Homo sapiens: one gene and its partners. The protein of the gene in region 1 interacts with the protein of each later gene in a biochemical or structural test. Each region holds a gene or a part of one and is shown on either strand. Other genes may lie near its edges.

Evidence for each region.
Region 2: the proteins of NEDD4 (region 1) and PARP16 form a complex in vitro, tested with the Homo sapiens proteins (one large-scale study listed by BioGRID).
Region 3: the proteins of NEDD4 (region 1) and ZC3H14 interact in a test that uses a peptide from one of them, tested with the Homo sapiens proteins (one large-scale study listed by BioGRID).
Region 4: the proteins of NEDD4 (region 1) and RAPGEF2 form a complex in vitro, tested with the Homo sapiens proteins (2 studies listed by BioGRID and IntAct).
Region 5: the proteins of NEDD4 (region 1) and TEAD2 form a complex in vitro, tested with the Homo sapiens proteins (one large-scale study listed by BioGRID).
Region 6: the proteins of NEDD4 (region 1) and SULF1 form a complex in vitro, tested with the Homo sapiens proteins (one large-scale study listed by BioGRID).
Region 7: the proteins of NEDD4 (region 1) and AMOTL1 form a complex in vitro, tested with the Homo sapiens proteins (one study listed by BioGRID).

What each region holds. Positions count from the first base shown.
Region 1 is NC_000015.10:55,861,113-55,864,612, forward strand, and holds part of NEDD4 (E3 ubiquitin-protein ligase NEDD4), read right to left. Parts: intron 1,968-3,500; coding exon 1,801-1,967; intron 1-1,800. UniProt on the Homo sapiens protein: E3 ubiquitin-protein ligase which accepts ubiquitin from an E2 ubiquitin-conjugating enzyme in the form of a thioester and then directly transfers the ubiquitin to targeted substrates. Specifically ubiquitinates 'Lys-63' in target proteins.
Region 2 is NC_000015.10:65,266,384-65,269,883, reverse strand, and holds part of PARP16 (protein mono-ADP-ribosyltransferase PARP16), read left to right. Parts: intron 1-3,115; coding exon 3,116-3,322; intron 3,323-3,500. UniProt on the Homo sapiens protein: Intracellular mono-ADP-ribosyltransferase that plays a role in different processes, such as protein translation and unfolded protein response (UPR), through the mono-ADP-ribosylation of proteins involved in those processes.
Region 3 is NC_000014.9:88,622,037-88,625,066, forward strand, and holds part of ZC3H14 (zinc finger CCCH domain-containing protein 14), read left to right. Parts: 3' UTR 1-567; coding exon of another isoform or gene 568-682; 3' UTR 683-2,933; coding exon of another isoform or gene 2,934-3,030. Other genes in the region: EML5 (echinoderm microtubule-associated protein-like 5), read right to left, coding at 568-682, 2,934-3,030. UniProt on the Homo sapiens protein: RNA-binding protein involved in the biogenesis of circular RNAs (circRNAs), which are produced by back-splicing circularization of pre-mRNAs.
Region 4 is NC_000004.12:159,106,079-159,109,578, reverse strand, and holds part of RAPGEF2 (rap guanine nucleotide exchange factor 2), read right to left. Parts: intron 1-3,500. UniProt on the Homo sapiens protein: Functions as a guanine nucleotide exchange factor (GEF), which activates Rap and Ras family of small GTPases by exchanging bound GDP for free GTP in a cAMP-dependent manner.
Region 5 is NC_000019.10:49,342,756-49,345,416, forward strand, and holds part of TEAD2 (transcriptional enhancer factor TEF-4), read right to left. Parts: intron 644-2,661; coding exon 476-643; intron 1-475. UniProt on the Homo sapiens protein: Transcription factor which plays a key role in the Hippo signaling pathway, a pathway involved in organ size control and tumor suppression by restricting proliferation and promoting apoptosis.
Region 6 is NC_000008.11:69,600,847-69,604,346, reverse strand, and holds part of SULF1 (extracellular sulfatase Sulf-1 isoform 1 precursor), read right to left. Parts: intron 2,694-3,500; coding exon 2,518-2,693; intron 1,156-2,517; coding exon 1,027-1,155; intron 748-1,026; coding exon 691-747; coding exon of another isoform or gene 687-690; exon of another isoform or gene 152-686; intron 1-151. UniProt on the Homo sapiens protein: Exhibits arylsulfatase activity and highly specific endoglucosamine-6-sulfatase activity. It can remove sulfate from the C-6 position of glucosamine within specific subregions of intact heparin.
Region 7 is NC_000011.10:94,771,356-94,774,855, reverse strand, and holds part of AMOTL1 (angiomotin-like protein 1), read right to left. Parts: intron 1-3,500. UniProt on the Homo sapiens protein: Inhibits the Wnt/beta-catenin signaling pathway, probably by recruiting CTNNB1 to recycling endosomes and hence preventing its translocation to the nucleus.

The DNA of each region.
Region 1 (3,500 bases):
TCATTGTATTATTTTGCCATGTTATTATAAGAGTAATAGAGTTACACATACATACATCTTTGTGAATCAGATAGTACATTTTCTAGAATTGGTCTTAAGCCAGGAGTAGAGTACTCCATGCATGAATGTGAAGGGCAGAATGAAAGATGGTGTAAGAACTTTATAATGAAAAGCTTAATGGTTTAGGAATTACATATCTATTAGTAATGGTATCTGTTTTTCGTAATATACAGTCATGGGCCTGTCCTGAAAAAGGTAATAGTAAAGATTTGTCTGAGCTTAGGAGAGGTACAATAAATCAGATTGGACGGTTAATGAGTATTAAAAAAAACAGAAAGAATGAATAAGACCTAGTATTTAATAGCTTAACAGGTGACTACAGTCAATAATAATTTAATTGTACATTTAAAAACAACCAGAAGACTATAATTGGATTGTTTGTAACAAAAAGGATAAAGGCTTGTGAGGATGGATACCCCATTTTACATGATGTGATTATTATGCCTTGCATGCCTGTATCAAAACCTCTCATGTACCCCACAAACATATATACCTACTAGGGACCCACAGAAATTAAAATTAAAAAAAATCAGATTGAACACCCTTACCCCAGTCATTTATATTATTCTAATTATTTGCATTTAATATAACCAGTCTATCAGATCAAGAATTTTGTTCAAATATTTAATAATAAAATTACTGTTTATTTAATGCGACATGAGCTCAGGCTAGTCAGAAGACCAGTTCTTACTGTACCGTAGCTAAAGAAAACATAATTTTGATACATGGCTCTAAGGGAATGCTTCAGTTTTTTTCCCCCTAAATATATGATTTTGGCTACCTGAAAATGACATCAGCCACAGTGAAAGAACTGTGATTTTGCTCATGTAAGGCTTGCCATAATACTGAGGTATGCAACAGCGCAATTCTACAGAATTTTATAGTGTCTTCAGCTTTGCAGTCTGTACGTCACTCTATGAAGACTGAAGCTTCTGTGCCATGAAGTACTTGAATTGCTGATTTGTTTTGGAAGGATTTGAGAACAGAAAATATCTGTAAAAGTGCTTGGCATATATCAGGCACAAAATATCATAGCCAAAAATTAGGAGGCTAATGAACACATTAAAAAATTACGAGTATGTTTCAAACAGAAGACTAAAGGAAGACTTTATAAGACTATATGGAAGGAAAAATGGAAGGGGATTTGAGAATAAATATGAATAATGGGAGATTTTATAAATGTATATACAGTCTAATAATAAAAAAAATCACTGAGGAGACAGAAGTTAGAATATGTTGAAAGTCATTCCGTCCTTGATCTGTGCGTGCTGGAAGTTATGTGGACATTGACCAGACTGTCAAATGCGCGTTTAACGTAATACCCTTATTATTGAGTCCTTTATATTTTACAAATAATTTATATTTTAAAAATAGAGTACTATAGAAATTAACATTTTATTACATTTTAATAACAAACTACAAGAATTCTCCAAGACTTCTAATTCAGCCTAAAAATAAAAATCTACCATTTGTGGCTACATAAAATTAAAAACCTATTAAAATTAAGACGCAATTAAAAGGGTAGTATCTAGAGTCAAGTAATTTTGAATATTATCAAGTCATTTAAAAAACGAAACAGCAGAGTTAGGATTTTTAAAGTCCTGGGCAATAAAAATCCTAGTATTCTTATAGTTTATGGATCACTATACTGTTATGAATCCATCTGAGACATGACTTCAAAATGAAAATTCGTAGTTAAAGTGTTTCCAGATTAAAATTGTGAAAGCCATCAGCACATACTGAGGGGTTGGTCTTTTCCACTGTGTTCTTCTAGATTCATGGTTTACATAATAGGTCCTTCCAAGGATATCCTGCCTCTCTTCCCACCCTGGAGGTAGAGGAGAAGGTTCTTGTTGTTGCTGCAAATGGCAAGCAGCATCTGGTTGGTCCAAAACAACCCAGCCAGGCTGAAAAACAGGATGGCAGCAATTAAGTTTACGCATGATTTTTTTAACTTTCTAAATTATATGCTAAAGGAAATTTAAAAAGAGATTTATTATATCAAGTTTTAGAAATTATGCATAGACAGAATAAACAATCCTCAACTTTTAAGACCATAATGTAAATACTTTATGATAATGAAGACTCTTTTTGCAAAAATGATAACCATTTAAATTTTGTTTAAAATTGTCTAAAAATTTTTCAAAAAAAACTTTAAAGGCACAAGCCTGTAAAGTTTCCACCAGGTTCTTCCTGGGTGACAGAACCAGATCCCATCTCAAAACAACAATAAAACAGAACTTTAAAACAAATCTATTTAAAATTTTCATAACAAAAAAGTAATAAAAGTATGTGAGGTGATTTAATGAGATTAATTAGCCTGATTTAATCATTTTGCATTGTAAGTATATATCAAAACATCACATTGTCCTCCATAAATATATACAATTATTGTCAATCAAAAATAAAATTTTAAAAAATCTAATAGAAAAAAAGGACAAAAAATCGTTTAAATAAACAACCACGGAAAGTTGGAAAGTACTGAGAAATTGAGAAGTATAGTTTAAACTACTAGTGTAATCTTAGGCTGTTCTCTAAATTATCAACTGAATGAAGGGCAAGGATTATTTCTTATTGGTCATTGTCTTTCCTACAGAGAAAGCACCTTGCTTACGGTAGAAATCAATAACTATCTGACACATGGAAAAAATCATTTGATAAAGGTCAAATATACAAAGGGGCAAGATGGGGAAGGCAAATGATTTAGAAATAACTGCTACAGTGAACTCTCTAGTGATGGAAAAGTCATTCTCATTCCCTTGTCTGATTTCTCTCTTTCTCCTCTGGACCAAGGCAAGGCATTTTATCAAGTCATAAAACAGCCAAAGAAAGATTTTTAAAAAATGCACTGAGAAGTTTGGTTTCTCAGAGATTAACAAGGGGCAAAATTAACATAAAGCCTTAGGGCAGTTAAAGTAAGGAATTGATAGAAAAGAGTAGCAAGAGTTAATGCTTTTATATGAGAAACCTCACAAAAGAAAAGGCAGTAGGTCAAAGATTCTATTAAATACTGATTGGTTAGGAAAGCATTAGAAACTGAAATAAACTGGTGAAGAAAACTTTAAAATGCTCCCAAAAGGACACAAAAGAAGACCTAAATAAGGGAAAGACATAGTCTGTTCTTGGCTGGGAAGACTCAGTCTCACAAAGGTGTCAATTCTTCCCAAGTTAATCTATAAATTTGCCAAGATTCCAACAAAACTGTATTATGATTAAAAAAAAAAATAGGCCAGGTGCGGTGGCTCAGGCCTATAATTCCAGCACTTTGGGAGGCCGAGGCGGGCAGATCACTTGAAGTAGGGAGTTTGAGACCAGCCTGACCAACATGGAGAAACCCCATCTCTACTAAAAATACAAAATTAGCCAGGTGTGGTGGCGCATGCCTGTAAATCCCAGTTATTCGGGAGGCTGAGGCAGGAGAATCACTTGAACCCGAGAGG
Region 2 (3,500 bases), 9.4 Mb from region 1:
TTACCTCATATGGGCATCAAGCACCTACTAGATGTTGGGTGCTAAAGTAGATAAGGCAATAAATAGCTCCTAGACTTTTGATTGTGGACCAGTTAAATTTCTTTTAAACTGTGGGGTATTGGGACCCAGGATTGTCAACTTTTTGTATTGCCCAAGTAAGTATGTTAGCCTACCATGTATCATCATTTTATAAAAGGATATTATAGTACTAAGAAAGGAGGATGGCCTTGACTTCAGAATGAAGAACAGTTCTTCCAAAGAAAGGTACATGGCAACCTTACATCAATATATCTGTTATATAGCCCTTATTTTGCTCATTCAGTCATAATCCAGAGAAAACTTTGCCATAGACTGGCTTTGGTCTGTGACCTACTATTTGAAAACCACTGGCTGGGTGCGGTAGCTCATGCCTGTAATCCCAGCACTTTGGAAGGCTAAGGTGGGCGGATCATGAGGTCAGGAGTTTGAGACCAGCCTGGCCAACATAGTGGAACCCCGTCTCTACTAAAAATACAAAAACTTAGCTGGGCATGGTGGCGGGAGCCTGTAATCCCAGCTACGTGGGAGGCTGAGGCAGGAGAATCGCTTGAAGCCGGGAGGCGGAAGTTGCAGTGAGCCAAGATGCCGCCACTGCACTCCAGCCGGGGCAACAGTGCAAGACTGTATCTCAAAAAAAAAAGAAAGAAAGAAAGAAAGAAAGAAAGAAAAAAACCGACTAAAATGGGCCAGGTGTGACCCATTGTCCTGGCTTGTCTTGGGTAACTGGGACTATAGGTGTAACCACTATAGAGAGGAAATTCACAGGTCTACAGTCCCCATTCCAAATAATACTAAACTCTACAAGCTCACGCCTGTAATTCCAGCACTTTGGGAGGCCAAGGCAGGCGGATCACTTGAGGCCAGGAGTTCAAGACCAGCCTGGCCAAAATGATGAAGCTTCGTCTCTAATAAAAATACAAAAATTAGCCAGGCATTGTGGCACATGCCTGTAATCCCAGCTGCTCGGGAGGCTGAGGTAGGAGAATCGCTTGAACCTGGGAGGTGGAGGCTGCAGTGAGCCAAGATCGTGCCACTGCACTCTAGGCTGAGAGACAGACTAAGACTCCATCTCAAAAAAAAAAGAAAAAACCACTGAAATGGACTAGGGGGCAGTGGCTTGCGCCTGTAATCCTAGTACTTTGGGAGGCCAAGGTGGGAGGATTGCTTGAGGCTGGAGTTCAAGACCAGCCTGGGCAACATAGCAAGACCCTCTGTCTATGAAAAATTTAAGAATTAGGTGCACATAGTAGTTGCACCTATAGTCCCAGCTACTCAAGAAACTGAGGATAGAGGATTGCTCGAACCCAGGAGTTCAAGGCTGCGATGAGCTAGGATCACACCACTGCACTCCAGCCTGGGCGACAGAGCCAGATCCTGTCTCAAAAACAACAACAGCAACAAATGCTAATTGCTTCTCATGATTTTGTGGGTTGGTTGGGTGGTTCTGGGCTTGGCTGGATGAGCTAGGGTGGCCTCACTTACATTTCTGGGGCTTCAGCTGGGATGGCCACCATGCTGGAAGCCTTCCTCTGTGAGGCTCATACTCTATAGCAGACAAGCCAGGACAATGGTGAGGGGTTCTCAGCAGCAAAGAAGGAAAGACAAGCCCTTCTCAAGTCTCTGTTTGCTATATATATGTTAATGTCCCGTTGGCCAAAGCAGGTCACATGGCCAAGCACAGTCTTAAGGGTGGAGAAGTAGGTTCCATCTTTTGATGGGATCTTGGTAGAATCCCACCTGCAAAACCACATTGCAGAGGGGTGCATGGACAAGGATGAGAGGGAATTTTTACAATAAACATGAGATGATTGTAAAAATGGAATGCAGGAGATAGATGTAAAAGTGTTAGGAAGTGGCCGGGCGTGGTGGCTCACGCCTGTAATCCCAGCACTTTGGGCGGCTGAGGCGGGTGGATCACGAGGTCAGGAGTTCAAGACCAGCCTGGCCAAGATGGTGAAACCCCATCTCTACTAAAAATACAAAAAAAATTAGCCAGGGGTGGTGGCACGCACTTGTAATCCCAGCTACTCCGGAGGCTGAGGCAGAGAATTGCTTAAAAAACCTGGAGGGGCAGAGGTTGCAGTGAGCTGAGATGGCGTCACTGCACTCCAGCCTGGGCGACAGAGCGAGACTGTCTCAAAAAAAAAAAAAAAAAAAAAAAAAAAAGTTAGGAAAATTAGAAGTGATCTCCACTTATTTTTTTAATTATTATTTAATTAATTAATTTATTTATTTTTTGAGACGGAGTCTCGCTCTGTCGCCCAGGCTGGAGTGCAGTGGCGCCATCTCGGCTCACTGCAAGCTCTGCCTCCTGGGTTCACACCATTCTCCTGCCTCAGCCTCCCGAGTAGCTGGGACTACAGGCGCCCACCACCACGCCCGGCTAATTTTTTGTATTTTTAGTAGAGACGGGGTTTCACCGTGTTAGCTGGGATGGTCTTGATCTCCTGACCTCATGATCCGCCTGCCTCGGCCGCCCAAAGTGCTGGGATTACAGGTGTGAGCCACCGCACCCAGCCCTGTGATCTCCACTTAGAAGGAGCAATTCATGCTTCTCAGCCTACTGTAGGGAAAAATGTTATTATTTATTATTATTATTTTTTTAAATGGAGTTTCACTCTTGTTGCCCAGTCTGGAGTACAGTGACGTGATCTCTGCTCACTGCAACCTCCACCTCCCAGGTTCAAGTGATTCTTCTGCCTCAGCCTCCTAAGTAGCTGGGACTAAAGGTGTGCACTGCCACACCCGGCTAATTTTGTATTTTTAGTAGAGATGGGGTTTCACCATGTTGGTCAGGCTGGTCTCGAACTCCTGACCTCAAATGATCCACCTGCCTCGGCCTCCCAAAGTTTTGGGATTACAGGTGTGAGCCACCACACCCGACCGGGAAAAATGTTATTAAAGAAAGCAGTCTTGTGCTATACGCTCTGAGTTTGCTTATGTCTCTATCCTCATGAAACCTGTTGTTCTCATGAGCAGAGTCCATGGGAGTTAAGCCTGAGAGTTTAGGGGGCTATTTTTGCAGCACATTTACCAGCTCCCCAAATAAAATTTTGATGCTCTTCATGTTTTCAAGTTTGAAAAGATCCAAAAGCTGACTGGGGCTCCTCACACGCCTGTTCCTGCACCGGACTTCCTGTTTGAAATTGAGTACTTTGACCCAGCCAACGCCAAATTTTATGAGACCAAAGGAGAACGAGACCTAATCTATGCATTTCATGGTAGCCGCCTAGAAAACTTCCATTCCATTATCCACAATGGCCTGCACTGCCATCTGAACAAGGTGGGGCCTAAGGGACACCCTGCTGATGTGGGGAAGCAGGGATGGAGGTGGGAGAGTGGGGAGGGGGAGATTCAGAACCCTAGGAGTTTGCAGGTGGGGTCGGGTAGGTTTACTAACGCCTTCTCACTCAAAATGTGGTCTGCACACCAGCAGTGGCAGCATCACCTGGAGACCTAAG
Region 3 (3,030 bases), on another chromosome or scaffold:
CCCCCTTGTCCGCCTCCAGTAACCACTATTCTACTCTCCACCTCTGTGGGATCAACTTTTTTAGTTTCTGCACAGGAGTGAGAACATGTATTTATCTTTCTGTGCCTGGCTTATTTCACTTCACATCATGTCCTCCAGTCTCATCCATGTTGCCACCAAGAATGACAGAATTTCATTATTTTTTATGGCTGAGTAGTATTTCATTGTTTGTTTACTGCACGTTTTATCTAGGGAATGTGTGTTTTTTTAAAAAATGGAGACAGCTGTCCTAATATGAGTCAACTGCCAAGGGCTTTCAATTATGTCTACTAGAGTTGTTAAATTGGCAGATTCTAGAAAATATTGGAGGTTTACATACAGTATTTAGACAGAATAGCTTCCTAGCTTATGCACCACACTGGTGCTAACTTTGGCAAAGAAAGCAGCAAAGACAGAGTAATGTTGGCAAGCAAATCCATCGTTATGCATTATTAAGTATTGTTCATTAGGCTGCAAAGGGTGAGGGAATCACAGTAATAACCACTTTCTGTTTTCTGCTGCACTGTATCAGCTCATGGAACATCTTACTTTGCCTCTGCACACAGAACGAACACAATCTGTGGCTTGTCCTGTCTCAAGCCTGAAGGCACGGCACCGCCTCAGTTCCTGATCCCACAGTTTAACCGCTCCTCCTTCTTTTGACCTAAGTAAATAACCAAGCCAGAGTAAGTGTTCATTATTGGCTACTATAATTTTTATTATAAACAAATACCAAGTTATAAGCAGAATCTTTTTTTTTTAAAAAGGCCCTGATATTTATAATTTACCTCTAATATTCTTGTAAACTTTCTATGGCAATTTGAGGATATACTATATCTCAGTCAAAATAAACATCCAGTTTCAGTGAATTTTATTTTGAGAAATACTCTTTTTTTCTGACATGAGCATAATTTTATTTAGCCTCTACAATACATTACAATACATTATCCTCTCTCATAATACTTTTTTTTTTTTTTTTAAGATGTAGTCTCGCTCTGTCTCCCAGGCTTGAGTGCAGTGGCATGATCTAGGCTTATTGCAACCTCTGCCTCCCAGGTTCAAGCGATTCTCCTACCTCAGCCTCCCGAGTAGCTAGCATTACAGGTGTGCACCACCACACCCAGCTAATTTCTGTATTTTTAGTAGAGATGGGGTTTCACCATGTTGGCCAGGCTGGTCTCAAATACCTTGACCTCAGGTGATCTGCCTGCCTCGGCCTCCCAAAGTGCTGGGATTCCAGGTATGAGCCACTGTGCCTGGCCTCATAATACTTCTTGATTAGGAAGATGTAAAAAAACAATTTTATTAAAAGGATAATGGAAATGTAAGGCAAAATAATAGAATTACAAATGCTATGCTACAGAGTTGATTTATTTATTTTTTTGAGACAGAGTGTCGCTCTGTCACCTGGCCTGGAGTGCAGTGGTGTGATCTCGGCTCACTGCAACCTGTGCCTCCCAGGTTCAAGCGATTCTTCTCCTTCAGCCTCCCAAGTAGCTGGGATTACAGGCACCATGCCTGGCTAATTTTTGTATTTTTAGTAGAGATGGAGTTTCACCATATTGGCCAGGCTGATCCCAAACTCCTGACCTCGTGATCCGCCCACCTCGGCCTCCCAAAGTGTTGGGATTACAGGCGTGAGCCACTGCAACTGGCCCAGAGCTTATTTTTGAAGGCCAAAACAGAAGCATATTTATTCCCTATCAGGTGTTAAAATATCTCACTGGAACAGTTTAGCAGGCTTCTAGTGAGTGGGGGTGTGCAGGAGTAAATGACGTGGGAAATACAAGTGTTGGAGGACGAAATAGAGCCCATTTATGGATTTTATTCCTGGAAGGGCTGAAAAATGTATTCCTTCCTTTTCTGCTAGATGAATTGCTTGTCTGAAAGCATGCCTATGTGCATTCTTCCTTTATGTAAAAGGCACAAATTCTGCGCTTGTGTTTAATTAACATATGTGGGTTCTTTCAATCCTGTATTGAAATGTACTTCTTAGTCAACTATATGTCACATTTTTTTTTGTTTTTGTTTTTGTTTTTTAAATGGGGTCTCACTCTGTCACCCAGGCTGGAGTGCAGTGGCACCATCACAGCTCACTAAAGCCTTGACCTCCCCAGGCTCAAGTGATCCTCCCACCTCAGCCTCCTGAGTAGCAGGGACTACAGGCATGTGCCACCACACCCGGCTAATTGTTGTTTTTTATAGCGATGGGGTTTCACCATGTTGCCCAGGCTGGTCTTGAACTCCTGGGCTCAAGCGATCCACCTGCCTCAGCCTCCCAAAGTGATAAGATTACAGGTGTGAGCCACTGTGCCTGGCCTACATGTCATGTTTCAACATGCATATGACTATGTTGGTGACAAATCAAATCATAAGTATCTGGTTACTGTTGGGAGATTTGAAAATCACTCAGAAGAGACCTCTTCTCAAATTTTGAGGTCTTGTATAAAACAGTTTAAATTTGCCTCAAGCAAAAGGAAACAAGGCAGTTCTCTCTAGTTCCCTCATCCTTTTCTAAAGCAACAATGTGCATTCTACTCCTTAGAATCCATTCTGAACAAAAAGAGAGCAGGCAGTCAAAATACAACCCTGGCTCCAGATTCCCCCATGGGCCTCCTACTCAGCAAATCATACACAGGCATACAGACATTAAGAAAAGTAACTCAACTTGTAGGACAACTACCTATCCACACCTCAGAAAAAGTATCACCCCAACATGAAAAAAATTGGAAGTGAATTAAGACCAGAAATGAGAATCAAATAGAAGGCACATAAAAGGTAATAAAGGAGAAGCATATGAGGAGGAAGGTCGGAGAGGACACTCTGTGTAGCCTAGAAACAACTAGAATAATTAACTGCAAACCTCAGGTAGGTCACAAATGCATAAATATTCTGTGAAAAGAAAGAGGACTCACGGCCTTTCCTTTCCCCCAGTCACGATAAGTCCATCTCGCAGGGTGGTGTACATGGCAAACACAGGCCCGTTGTGAGCTCTCGCCACGATTCTACACA
Region 4 (3,500 bases), on another chromosome or scaffold:
CTGTTAAATAATAGAAATTGTATAAAATATGCTATAAAGAGGACTAACATTAGGCATTACACTAAATAATGTACTTTCACTTAATCCACAAAACCTCAGACAGCTATTATCCATTTTACCGACGAGGAAATTGTTACCAAAAATGGAGTGAAGAGAAGGAATACCCCATAAAATACGGATTATCAAGGACCAACGATTTTCAGTGGTTTCCATATCTCCTAAGTCTAAATCAAATTTACCTTTCTTTTAAATAGAAACGGGGCCTTGCTATGATGCCCAGGCTGGTCTTGAACACCTGGGCTTCAAGAGATCCTCCCACCTCAGCCTCCCAAAGTGCTGGGATTACAGGTATGTGTCACCACTCCTGGCCAAAGTTACTTCCATATAAAATTTACAAAGAAGGAATACTTTTTTTCTCATTAAGTTTTCATATGAATCAAGCAAAATCAGAGTTTTTATTTCTAGAAGGTTATCATATCATTATTTCGGATAGTCCATTTATATCTGAGGCGCATCCCATTATAATTTTATGCAACTTGAATTTCAAATTATCACCAATGGACCAGGTGCAGTGGTTCACACCTGTAATCCCAGCACTTTGGGAGGCTGAAGCAGGAGGATCACTTCTGCCCAGGACTTCATGACCAGTCTAGGCAACAAAGCGAGACCCTCATCTCTACAAAAAATTTTTTAAATTAGCCAGGCACAGTGACATAAGCCTGTAGACCCAGTTACTCGAGGCTGACGCAGGAGGATCATTTGAGTCTGGGAGATAGAGGCTGCAGTGAGCCCGGGCAACAAAGCAAGACCCTATTCCAAATATATATATCTCGCTCTCTTACCAAACATTGTCTATCGCCATACCATCCTGAAAGCACCCCATCTCATCAAATATCACCAAAGAAAGACCTTATTGTGATTCTTTAAATCATCCAAAATCTACCCAAATAAGTTTTTTTCAGGTCCAAAGTAAAATTTAAATGAAAAAATGCAGTGAATTTTCTTATGACGCAAACAATATTTTCTTTCAAAACTGAGCTTTAGAATAACACTGCATCCTTCCTTTCTTAAAAACAGTGAGATTAAATGATAGTGATAAGAAGTTATAACTAGTTTTGTTTTTATTTTATGTTCCTTCTTGAGAGAAAAACCAAGGTGGTCATCTTCTCCTTAAAAAAAAAAAAAAAAAAAAAAAGAAAGTTCTGTGAAATTCCAGCATTTGGGAATGACTGCGACTGCATTAAACGAGTATCTGCATAAAGCACTGCAGTTGGAGAGATTTTCATTTTGAACCTTAGCCAAGATATGCAAAGCTAATTATGGAACTGTTAATTACTAAATGTTTAAAGGGTTATTTGAAGGCGACTAAGGTTCTATCAATATTGCAAGGAATGTTAATATTTTTATCATAAATTTAATTCCTCATTTGTTCAAAGTCACATACCAATAGAGTTTGAAGCTAATATTTCAGTTATAAATGTATTTCTGTACCAAGAAATTCAAATGTCATTGTTATGAAATCTAACTGCTTGTGGCCAATCATTTCTTTATGAGACATGCTTTTTAAATGGCATACAGATAGTTTAGTTGTATTCTATGAACAAAAACTATTTAAGAAACAAATATTACTAGAGCCCCAAAATGGGCTAAAATATAATGAGAGTATAAGCTGACAAATATGAGTCTGCTTATAAGCAATGGTAAAAAGAAACTCAAATGGAAAATTTAACTATAACAGACACAATTCTTCCATTAGATTTGAAAGTTAAATATTTGTCAGAGATATTCTTTCATGCCGTTTCTCATAATTTACAGTTCTCTGAGCTAAAGTTACTTTTTTCAGCCCTCTCATTATGACTCACGATGAATTCTACCAAGTACTTAGCAATGAATTAAGTCCTGTATTCTTTATAACACATCAATGAGTTAGTACTTATATCAAAAGTTGTAATAGCCCAAAAAAAAGTAAGATTATTAAATAGGAGGAGATGGGGTGGGGGTTATTTTACACATAACATTTTTAACAGTAACTTTTACAACTAGCTAAAAATGCATTACATTAGGTCTTTAAAGAGAAGAAACAGTTTTGCAATAGATGTTTCACCTGAAAAACTGAAAATGGTATGCATTTAGACACTCTACAGAAGCAATTTCAAAGGGCCTGAACTCAACAAGTTAACAAAATGGTTTAGAAAAACCATTTTATTGTATAAGCCTTGGGGGATAAAAGCTGTTTGTAATTTATTTACATCTTTTACTTCACCAAATTGCCTTGGTGACCAAGCTTCTCATTTAAGTGATTAAAGACATAAACCCAAATGGTTAAATAAAGCAATTACTTAAGAGTCCTGTTTTTCAACAGAGGTGCACTGAAAAATATCAGTAGAATGTTTTCAGGGCTCATTATTTTCAAGGAAGTTTGTTATTTAGAATACAATGCCCCATTGACTAGAACTCAGCCAGGTTTCCAGACACACAATATGGGACACACATTGGATTAGAGTTTTCCTCCTCCTCTCACAATATCAGGTGAAATAGTGATAGTCTCTTGAAACTGAGTATGTATAACCTGGCTAAAACTTAGATGATAATTTTTTTGGTATTTCTCCTTACTATTCCCCCTCTCTAAAGATATAACTGAAATGCGTTTCCATTGTGCAGGTGGACATGAAAAGCTCCCAATTTATGAAAGTTCCTGGTACTCTTCCCACCCCTAGATTCTCTTCTAGCCAACTTCTTAGGTTACACCAATGACATCAGGATTACTTCTAGGCAATTGATTGACCTAAATACAAAACTATGTTTTCACGGAGCTTGGGAAATGAATGAGGCCAGCAAGCCTTTAAAAAACAAACAGAAATGAACAGCAGGAAAAAAAATTACATATGTTCCCCAATTCTTTTCCTTTTGCCTATAACGAGAATCATGCAAACTCCTTTATCGAGTCTATCCTCAGAAACAGAAGGAAGCAAAACAGCAAAACTTTCCTAATTCCTGTCCTTCTGTTCATGATATCAAGCTTATTTAACATGGTTGCTTTTCTAATATTATAAAATTCGAACTCACAAACATTTATAAGACAAGGCTGTATGGAAAATCTTCCAGCGTTCCATTAACAAAGCATTCTTAACATAAAAAGTACCTTCTACAAAAACTTTTTTTTTTATAATTTTTGAGTAAATTTCAAATTTTTATAAGATTACTCCTGGCCAGTCAGGTAAAGATGGAAAACGTTCACATTTCGAACAACTTTCTCTTGAAAAGAAATAAACGTGGGGATTTGTAGTAATAACCAAACGAACATCAAAGTTAATAGGGCTGACACTTAGGAATGTTTGAAATGTTTGGTAGGTTTCCTTATGTTTACTTTTTCTATGAAGGTTTGGTAGGGCAAATGGGCTGCCTTCCGACTGTCAATAAAGCTTTCATGTCGTGGGTTAGTAGTAGCTGGCCCAGGCCAAGTTCTGTGTTGGGTCAGTTTTTACTCTATTCTACACAAC
Region 5 (2,661 bases), on another chromosome or scaffold:
TCGGAGATCCGAATCAGGATCTCTGAGCCTGCAAATCACAAGCCCCTCAAAGTGATTCTCTGAACCCCCAAAGACCTCTGGACTCCTCTAACCTCCCAGCCCTCAGATACCCTCCAAAGACCCCTCCATGACGTCTTCAAACTCTGACTTCTAAACTTGAGACTTCCCCAAGTCTCCAGCAACTGTAAGTGTGACTTCTGAACCTTCTTGCCCTAAGAACCTCTCCATATCCATAAGACCCTTCTCAATCTCAGTGACTCTAAGTCTCTATACTACACATTACCTGTCAGCCCGCAGAATGATCCCTGCCTGTGACTTCTGAACTGCCCATTAGCTCCCAACGCATGCATTAAACCCTCAAAGAGGCTGGGACCCACTCCCTCCATGCATACTCCCAAATGCCTGAGTCATGATGGCTTCTGGTCCATTCTGCACCCCCAAGTGCTGACCCAGAGCTCCACCCCTCCAGCCTCACCTCCACCTTCTCCACCACCTGCTTGCCAAAAGAGCAGACCTTGGAGGAACAGGTGAGGGTCATGTGTTCCAGGCTCTCATACTGGCTGCTCACTCCGTAGAAGCCACCACTGCTGATGCTGCCACCGGCCCCTGCCTCCTCACCACTTGGGCCCCAGTTCAGGTCCGCCTGGGAGATGGGAAGGCACAGATGAGTCAGAGGGGACATCCCTTATAAACAGTGGGGACTACCAGGCGCAGTGGTTCACACCTGTAATCCCAGTACTTTGGGAGGCCGAGGCGGGCGGATCACCTGAGGTTGGGAGTTCAAGACCAGCCTGACCAACATGGAGAAACCCCATCTCTACTAAAAATACAAAATTAGCCGGGCGTGGTGGTGCATGCTTGTAATCCCAGCTACTGGGACACTGACGCAGGAGAATCACTTGAACCCGGGAGGCAGAGGTTGCGGTGAGCCGAGATCATACCATTGCACTCCAGCCTGAGCAACGAGAGCGAAACTCCATCTTAAAAAAAAAAAAAACACAGTGGGGACTCTGCCCCATAGCCTACCATTACCCCTGCAGTTCCCGGCTTGATTCTTCAGTGTTGTTTTGTTTTTTTGTTGTTTGTTTGTCTTTTTTTTTGGGGGGGGGGGAACAGGGTCTTGCTCCGTCACCCAGGCAATGTGTGGTGGTACAATCACAGCTCACTGCAGCCTCGACCTCCTGAGCTCAAGTGATCCTCCCATCTCAGCCTCCTGAGTAGCTAGGACCACAGGTGCATGCCACCACATCCAGCTAATATTTTGTATTTTTTGTAGAAACAGGGTTTCACCATGTTGCCCAGGCTGGTCTCCAACTCCTGGGCTCAAGCGATCCTCCCACCTTGGCCTCCGAAAGTGCTGGGATTACAGGCATGAGCCACCGCGTCAGGCTTTCAAAGTTCTCCAAGGGCTGGTTTCTGGAGAAGATCCACCGTCCATCAGCGTTGAAGAAGTCTGGGTCCCCAAAACAGTCTTGGCCCTGTCTCCCCAGTAACCAAAGGAGCCCTGGAATTCAATTTCAACCTTTTTTCTTTTCTTTTTTTTTTTTCTGAGATGAAGTCTCGCTCTTGTTGCCCAGTGCAATGCCGCGATCTTGACTCACTGCAACCTCTGCCTCCCGGGTTCAAGCGATTCTCCTGCCTCAGCCTCCCAAGTGGCTGGGATTACAGGCGCACGCCACCATGTCTGGCTAATTTTTGTATTTTTAGTAGAGACAGGGTTTTGTCATGTTGGCCAGGTTGGTCTCAAACTCCTGAACTCAGGTGATCCACCCACCTAGGCCTCCCAAAGTGCTGAGATTACAGGCATGAGCCACTGTGTCCAGCCAATTCAACCTTTTTCCCTTGAAGCCCGCAACTCAAGAGTTCAGCCCCTTCCAAGGGCCTGGTTACTATGGCAGTTACTTCTTAGCAACCAGTTCAAGATGAATACCTCCCTCTAAGCCCCTCTCACTCTGGTTGCTAAGGCAAGTGGCTACTCCCTAGCAACGGGACCTCACGGAGCCTGAGGAGGCCTGACTCCTCCTCAGAGCACTTCCCCCTCGGCCAAATCTGAGAGGTCAGACTCCCTCCATGACCCCAGTGGCCAAGTGTGTGTAGACAGCTGGCCAAGTGTCACTAGGCCAAGTGGGGCCTAAGGAAGCCTAAGAGCTCATCACACCTTTGGTCTGAGTCACCTCCTTGCGAGGCGCACCTCTTCCTCTTCCTAACTTTAGTTGCTAACACTGTGCCAGGTCCGTCTTCTCAGGGGCCCGACTCCATCTCTCACCGTGGCAAAACCAAAGACCTTACCAGCTGCTCCTCTGAACCCCTTCAGCAGCTGGGCTTCCTAAGGGGGTGGCTCTCCAGTCCTGGGACCTGATAAGGCCTGTCTTAAGCCCCAACAATGTCTAAGCCCTCAGCTGCACATCCCCAGAGCAGTTTCAGGCTTCTGCTTCACATGGCAGAAAGCTCCAGAACCGTGAACAGCAAGCTCCAGAACAACAACACTCCCAGCAAGAACAGTAAAGTTCAGGCCCTCAGCAGGCCTTTCCTTCCTTTCCTTCCTTCCTTCCTTCTTTCTTTCCTTCTTTCTTTTCTTTCCTTTCTTTCCTTCTTCCTTTCTTCCTTTCTTTCTTTCGGCAGGGTCTCATTCTGTCACCCAGGCTGGAGGGCAGTGGCACA
Region 6 (3,500 bases), on another chromosome or scaffold:
GAAGTAGGAAGTAGGAAGAAGGGTGCCGGGTGAGGCTTGGAGGCAGCTTAGAGAAGAACGTGGGGAGGATGGTAGAGAAACTCAATCCACTGGTCTGATTAGAAACCAGCACTGAGAAATGCAACAGTAAATCTACACCCATGATAAAGGCTTTGGTCCAAGCTTATGAGAATTTATTCTTTTTGGGGGATGTGGAGTCGTCATTCTCTTGCTTTTTTGGTATTTTAAAAATTGATATATCACAATTATACATATTTTGGGGGTACGTGTGATATATGGATACCAGTCTACAATGTGTAATGATCAAATCAAGATAATTGGGATATTCATCATCTCATTTATCTTTTCCTTGTGTTGGGAACTTTGCAATTCTTCACTTCTAGCTATTTTAAGATATACATAAATTATTGTTAACGATAATGTCCCAACTATACTATCAAATTCTATAACTTCTATCTAACTGTGTTTTTGTACCAATTAACCAACTTGAGGGTTATTCTTTACAATTCTGATCCAGCAATTATTACTCTATTGACCACTACAGAATAAGCAGCAAACCATTCAATCTTGTGACTAGGTTTACGAAATCTGCATGCTTAGTAAACAAAAATAAGGAGAAAAAAAATACTCAGCAGGGAAAGCTGCCCACTAGGACTGGTTCCCAGAAGCACCCCAGGAACCAATAATTACCCTCTTTCCACTAGGAATGTATCACGCCAAATTTTGGCCTTCTTGTTTGTTCGAAACCTGAAAGCAAAATGATAATATTTACTTTTGGCATCTGGACGTTTTTCCAAATGGATCTGTGCTAACAGCTTATTTAAAGAAACACCTCTCACTTCCCACAGACCATGAGTGCATCTCCATCAATATGCTATTCACAAGCAGCTGAGAAATGCTCAGCTTGGGGTGATCCTTGTGGGCAAGGCATATTCTGCCTCCATGTCTTCAGCTGCTGGCTGGCTCTGGGCACCAGCTGGAGCTCAGTGTATTTGGGGCTGGCTGAGAGGAGGAACAATGACACACCTGTTACCTGGCTTTTCTGGGTCCAGAAGTTTGAGGACAGACTTGCCGTCCACATCAGGAGGTGTGTCGAGCCCAGCAATATCCAGGATCGTGGGGGCCAAGTCAATGTTGAGAACGATCTGTGGGACTCTGTAAAGGGGCACACGGTGATGGCTGAGATCCAATGCCAGGGGAAGGTGGCACTTAGGGCTGCTTTTTCTACAGCAGTGACTCATTGGCCTTCAACTCTTCTCACCCTCTCATCTGGTCTCCTAGGCATGGGTAGTTGTGTGGCAAGGGTGGGTGTGTGATCACAGCAATGGCACTGAGCAAGATTAACTGACTCTTGCCAGGGTCAGGCTGGAGAGATGCCTGCACCCCTGTATTCTGACCACATCACCAGGCAAGATGCAGCCTGATACATGGTTTTTGCAGCAAGCATACTTTTGCTTAAAACCCAATAGTCCATAACTTTTCCGTTGAACAAGAGCTTTAAAATCAATATTTTAAAAAAGGATGTACAGTTTTTACAGTTGAATTCAATCTATGCTATCTAGTCCTTAAAACATAAAGCCTTCTAGATATAGATCTGACAATTCTCAGGGTGTTTCTAATAATCTTAGGAAGCACAATAACATTCTTCAAAGAAACCTTTCTTACTTCAATTGCCCTCTCTCCAGGATGTAGTATGATGCAGCAGCACATGTGGTACTCGGGGGAGATTCAGAACATCTGGGCTCTGGGCCCCACTGCCACCACTTCCAGAATCAGGGATCTGAGAGGGGCACTGACGCTGTCTGCCTAGCTTCACTGTTACATCAGGGGTCCAGGCTAGATGCTTTTCAAGGGCCATTCCAGCTTCTGGATTCTACTTCCACTTTTTCTTTTAGTCTTTCCATAATTCTTTCATGGATGCAATCCCATTTTATTCAAAACATCCTGAGATGATTGACAAGGCCATTTTATGATGGGAAAATAGGCAAGGCCATTTCATGATGGGAAAATAGAGATGCAAAGAGAAGCAGTGACCTGCCTACAGTGACAGAAATAGCAGCCTAGTCCTTTAGCTCTTTTTCCTTTAAAAGAAAAGCCAGCTTTTCAAAATTTATCTTTTAAAAACATTTCTTTCGGAATAATTTTTAAAAGTTAAACACTAAAAGGATGGTGTCAGGTTTTTTTTTTAAATGACAGCGTATCTCTGATTCAAAGAAGGGTGATATCCCAGAAGATCACATCCTGTCTGTGCACACAGACCAAAAAGACATAGATTCCAGTCAATTTGAGAGAATTAGTCATTGATACACTTATTTTTCCTTTCTCTTTAAGTAGTATACTTGAGCTAATTTAAGATGTGGCAGGGAGGAAAAGGTTTTCATCTTCGAAATTAACCAGCCTACACACATCCTTTTTTGTTTTGGATGAAAGGAAACCAGATACTGAGACTGGTAATTGAATTATCTTAGACACACTTGAGGTACGACAGTTGAATGTTGCAAACAGAGAAATACGTACATTGATCCTGGTTCTACACTTGGACCACGAATAAAAAAAGGCACACGAATATCAAAGTCATATGGCATGGATTTCCCCTTGACCAGTCCAAACTGCCCAATATGGTAACCATGGTCGGCGGTGTAAATGATGTAAGTATTCTCCAGCTCCCCCGTCTCCACGAGCATGTTATACAGCTGAAATACAGCAAAGGAACAAGTCAGAATCAATTGTGCTGGTATAAGATGATGCTCAATAGTGTTGCCACGATTGCCCCCAAATCTTTTTCCTGTTATTTTTAAAAGGCAAGAGTTGCTTTAATAACATTATCCACATTTTCTATTTGCTTACAGTCTGGGAGGGAAAGGTCCAATGGTAAAGGTGAAATGTAACTTTTTGGAATCTAGCACATTCTACTTTTAGGCTTTTTGTTTGCTTGTTTGGTAGAACAAAAACAAAAACACCCCGCACAACAACCTCTACCATCAAACTTTATAGGTTGTACTTTGAAAATCCATTGTTAAAATTATCATCACATATCTAATTACCAAGGGTTAAAAACAGGCTGCTTCTGAGCCTGATCCAGTTAAATCCAGCCTGAGGCACGTCTTGTTTGGCTTATACTATGTTTCAAAGTTCAGAAAATTTCAAATAAAATTTTTTGTGTTTCTGGCTTCTTTAAAAAAGTCAGAAGACCTGCTGATACTTGATCCACATTTCTACATGGCAAAATTTAGCTGGAGCTGAGTAATTGCTGTTCCTTTAGATGGGGCCCTTAACTTAAAGTTCAAGTTCAGCACAAGCTCCATCAATTCTTTATTGCCTTTGAGGATGTGGCCCCTGATCTACGCTGATTTGATTTTTCTCTCCTCTTTTTTACTGGCTCCATAAGAAACCAACCCTGGAGAGGTAGATGGAATGAGGACAAGATAAGGGAGGGATGATTAAGCCACTAAACACATACTCTCTCTCTTTCTTTCTCTCTCAAAATGATGCTGGAAAAT
Region 7 (3,500 bases), on another chromosome or scaffold:
CAAACTCAATTACTTATAGATGAACAAACTCCATTCCAAAGGGTAAGCATCTCAGTCCAGGCCCAATTTAAAGGGGCTATGTTTTAAAATGGTCATTCTTAACATGTGTTTCCAGTACCAGCAGCATCAGCATTGCTTGGAAACGTGTTAGAAATGCAAAGTCTTAGGCCCTATCCTCAATCAACCAAGGAAACAGAAACTCTAGGGGTGCGGCCCAGCAATCCATGTTTCAATAAACCCTCTGGGGTATTCTGATGCTCAATCACATTTGAGAACAACTGTCCTGGAATTGTACATCTAAGACCCAATTAATTTCCTCTGAGAAGTAAACAACTTGGTCATCAAGAAGGAAACAGAGCTGCCAGTTATGAAATTTGAGACACGGCCTGGTGACATCAGCCCTGACTTACTGCACCTACAGTACCAAGCACCATAAACTCTGAACTAGCCTTCTGAATGCAGACCCACCTCCTCCTGCCTCCTGTGCTCAAGGGCACAGAGGAAATCATTCTTTCATCAGAAATCATACTTTTATAGAAGCAAAGAAAGGTTTATTTTATAGATAGTAATAGATTGTGAATAGGGCATCCTAGCTTCTATCTCATTCACTAAGTAGTATTCACAGCGCTCCCAACTGTGAAAAGGAACACTTCCATGAGTAAGAACAGGGGTTCCAGGTTCTCAAAGAAGACGGATACATGCGAATTTACGTAACATTATAAAGTGTTTTGCTTCTCTGCTGTTTTAGTAATAATAATGGTAGCAGGTATTTATTGAATGCTTTCAACGTGCCCAGCATTGTGCGCATTGCTTCACTTTGCCCTCATGCAGCTCCATGAGGGAAGAACTATTATTTTCCCCATTTTACTCATGAGGCTTCAGCATGTACAATTCCGAGGTCACACAGCAAGGAGGCGGCAGGGCCAGGATACACCTGTTCTCAATCCAAAATACTACCTCTCCTTTTTCATTTTAACATATACATAACTCTTAATCTATTCAACTTCATTCATACTGTTTATGTTACTGAGTTTTAAGTACTGTGTTTTCACCTTCTTTTAAGCTATCATGCCATGTACTGTTCAAAAAGGTCCTCAACCACTCAGTTTATGCCAACTCAATCAGCATGTGCTCAAGAATCAGAGTAACACACTCTAAAGAATTCATGGCAATAAAGATCTAAAAACTGGATCAAAAGCAAACCAATTTTATTCCCACCATGGTTGGGCAGCATGCCCAGGGAAGCCCTCCCTGACCGCCTGGACCAAAGTGAGCCCTCTCTCCTCAGAGCACCCACAGTACATCACATGTGTCCCCATCATAGTAGTAACACATGGTAATGTCCACATGCCACACCCCTAATCTGTGAGCACTTCAGAATGGGAACTACACCTGATAGTCCATCTGTGCATATTCGAGACCTAATAGATGGTTTATAAGCTCAGCAGCAAGACATACAAACTCTTAAGACAGACAAAAGTGAACTATAACTTAAAAATAAAATGTAAAACTATAAAACTTTTAGAAGAAAACACAGCAGAAAATGTCTGAGACATGGGTCTAGGCAAAATGTTCTTAGATGTGACACTAAATGCACCATCCTTAAAGAAAAAAGGAATCTATCAACTGGACTTTATCAAAATAAAAAACTTTTGATCTGCAAAAGACCTTGGTAAGGACATAAAAAGACATGCTACATACTTGGGAAAATATATGTGCAAGCCACAAATCTGACTAAGGACTTGCATCTAGAATATATAAAGAACTCTTAAAGCTCTAAAGTAAAATAAATAATCCAGTTAGGGAATGGGCAAAAGGCATGAATAGTTATTTCGCCAAAGAGGATATATGGATAGCAAATAAGCACATAAAAAAGACAGACATTAAACATAATCAGCCATTAGGGTAATGCAAATTAAAACCATGGTAAGATTAGAGCACCTACTAGAACACCTATTAGGACAACTAAAATAAAAAATAGTGATAACATCAAATGCTAGTGAGGTTGCAGAGAAACTGGATCTCTCATACATTGCTAATAGGAGTGGTGCAGCCACTCTGGAAAAGTTTGGCAATTTCTTAAAAAACTAAACACACACTTACCATACAATCCAGCAATCACAATCATGGGCATTTACGCCAGAGAAATGAAAACTTATGTTCACACAAACACCTATATATAAATGTTCATAAAAACTTTATGTGAAATAGTCATGAACTGGAAAAAACCCATAGGTGAATGGTTAAACAAACCATAGTACATCCATATTATGGAATACTACTCAGCAATGAAAAGAAACAAACTATTGAGAGATGCAAAAATTTGGATGGATCCCCATGGCATTATGCTGAGTGAAAAGCCAATCTCAAAAGCTCACATACTACATGATTGTATTTATGTAACATTCTCAAAATGATAAAATTATAGATATGGTGAACAGGAGTAGTGGTTGCTAAGCATTTAGCAACAGAGTGAGGATGGGGAGAAGAGGGCCAGTGCAACTATAGAGGTGTAGCATAAGGGAGATCATTGGGGTAATAAAATAGTCTGTACCTTGATTGTGGTAGCGGTTACATGAATCTACACATGAAAAAATGCATAGAAGTACACACATAGAAATACAAATTTTACATGTGCATGTAAAACTGGTGAAATCTGAATATGCTCTGTGGACTGTACCAATGTCAATTTCCTGGTTCTGCTACTGTACTATGGTTATGTAAGATGTTACCAATGGGGGAAACTGGGTGAAGGGTACACAGGACCTCTCTACTATTTTTGCAACTTCCTATGAAGCTATGATCATTTCAAAACGAAAAGTTAAAAGTAAACAGCAGACATTTTACTTAAAAACAAAATGAAAAAATAGAGGTATATAGCTGCAATATTGGCCAGTGAGGTCTCAAACACAGGTTTAAACACACACCATAGAACGACAGTTTTTGAAAACTTAAATCTAATTCTTCAGTATCTTAACAGGGATACATTTCCAACACCTTAGAGCTACTCTCCTACTCTCTCCTAAAAGATGGGGGGAAAATGCCTGATGTGTGAGCCCCTTTAGGAGTCCAGGAGTCCTGTCCTGAGTGTCCAAAATGAATATACCCTAAGGTTACACAAGGCCTGGCCGTGAGAGCAGAGCCAAGGGCCTCACAAGTTAAAGTAGAACTCAGCTTGATGCCAACACATAAACCAAGAGCAGGAGTGGCTTCCTTCCAGCAAAAGTAGAGGACTGCCCTACCCACAATGGCCAAGATTTACATTGTACCTCTCCTTCAAGACAAAACAAAGCCAAGCCAACAAAATTAACTTTAAAAAAATCACTAGGCAAACAAAAAAACAAAACAAAACATAAAACCACAACAACCTCAGACTATTTCCAACAAACCTTGTAATCAAATATCTCCCTTTACTTGACCTCCACACTACCCCTTGCTTTTCGAGGATTTTATTACCTACTAAATTCTGAGTCATAAGAACCTGCCAAAATTAATGAAAA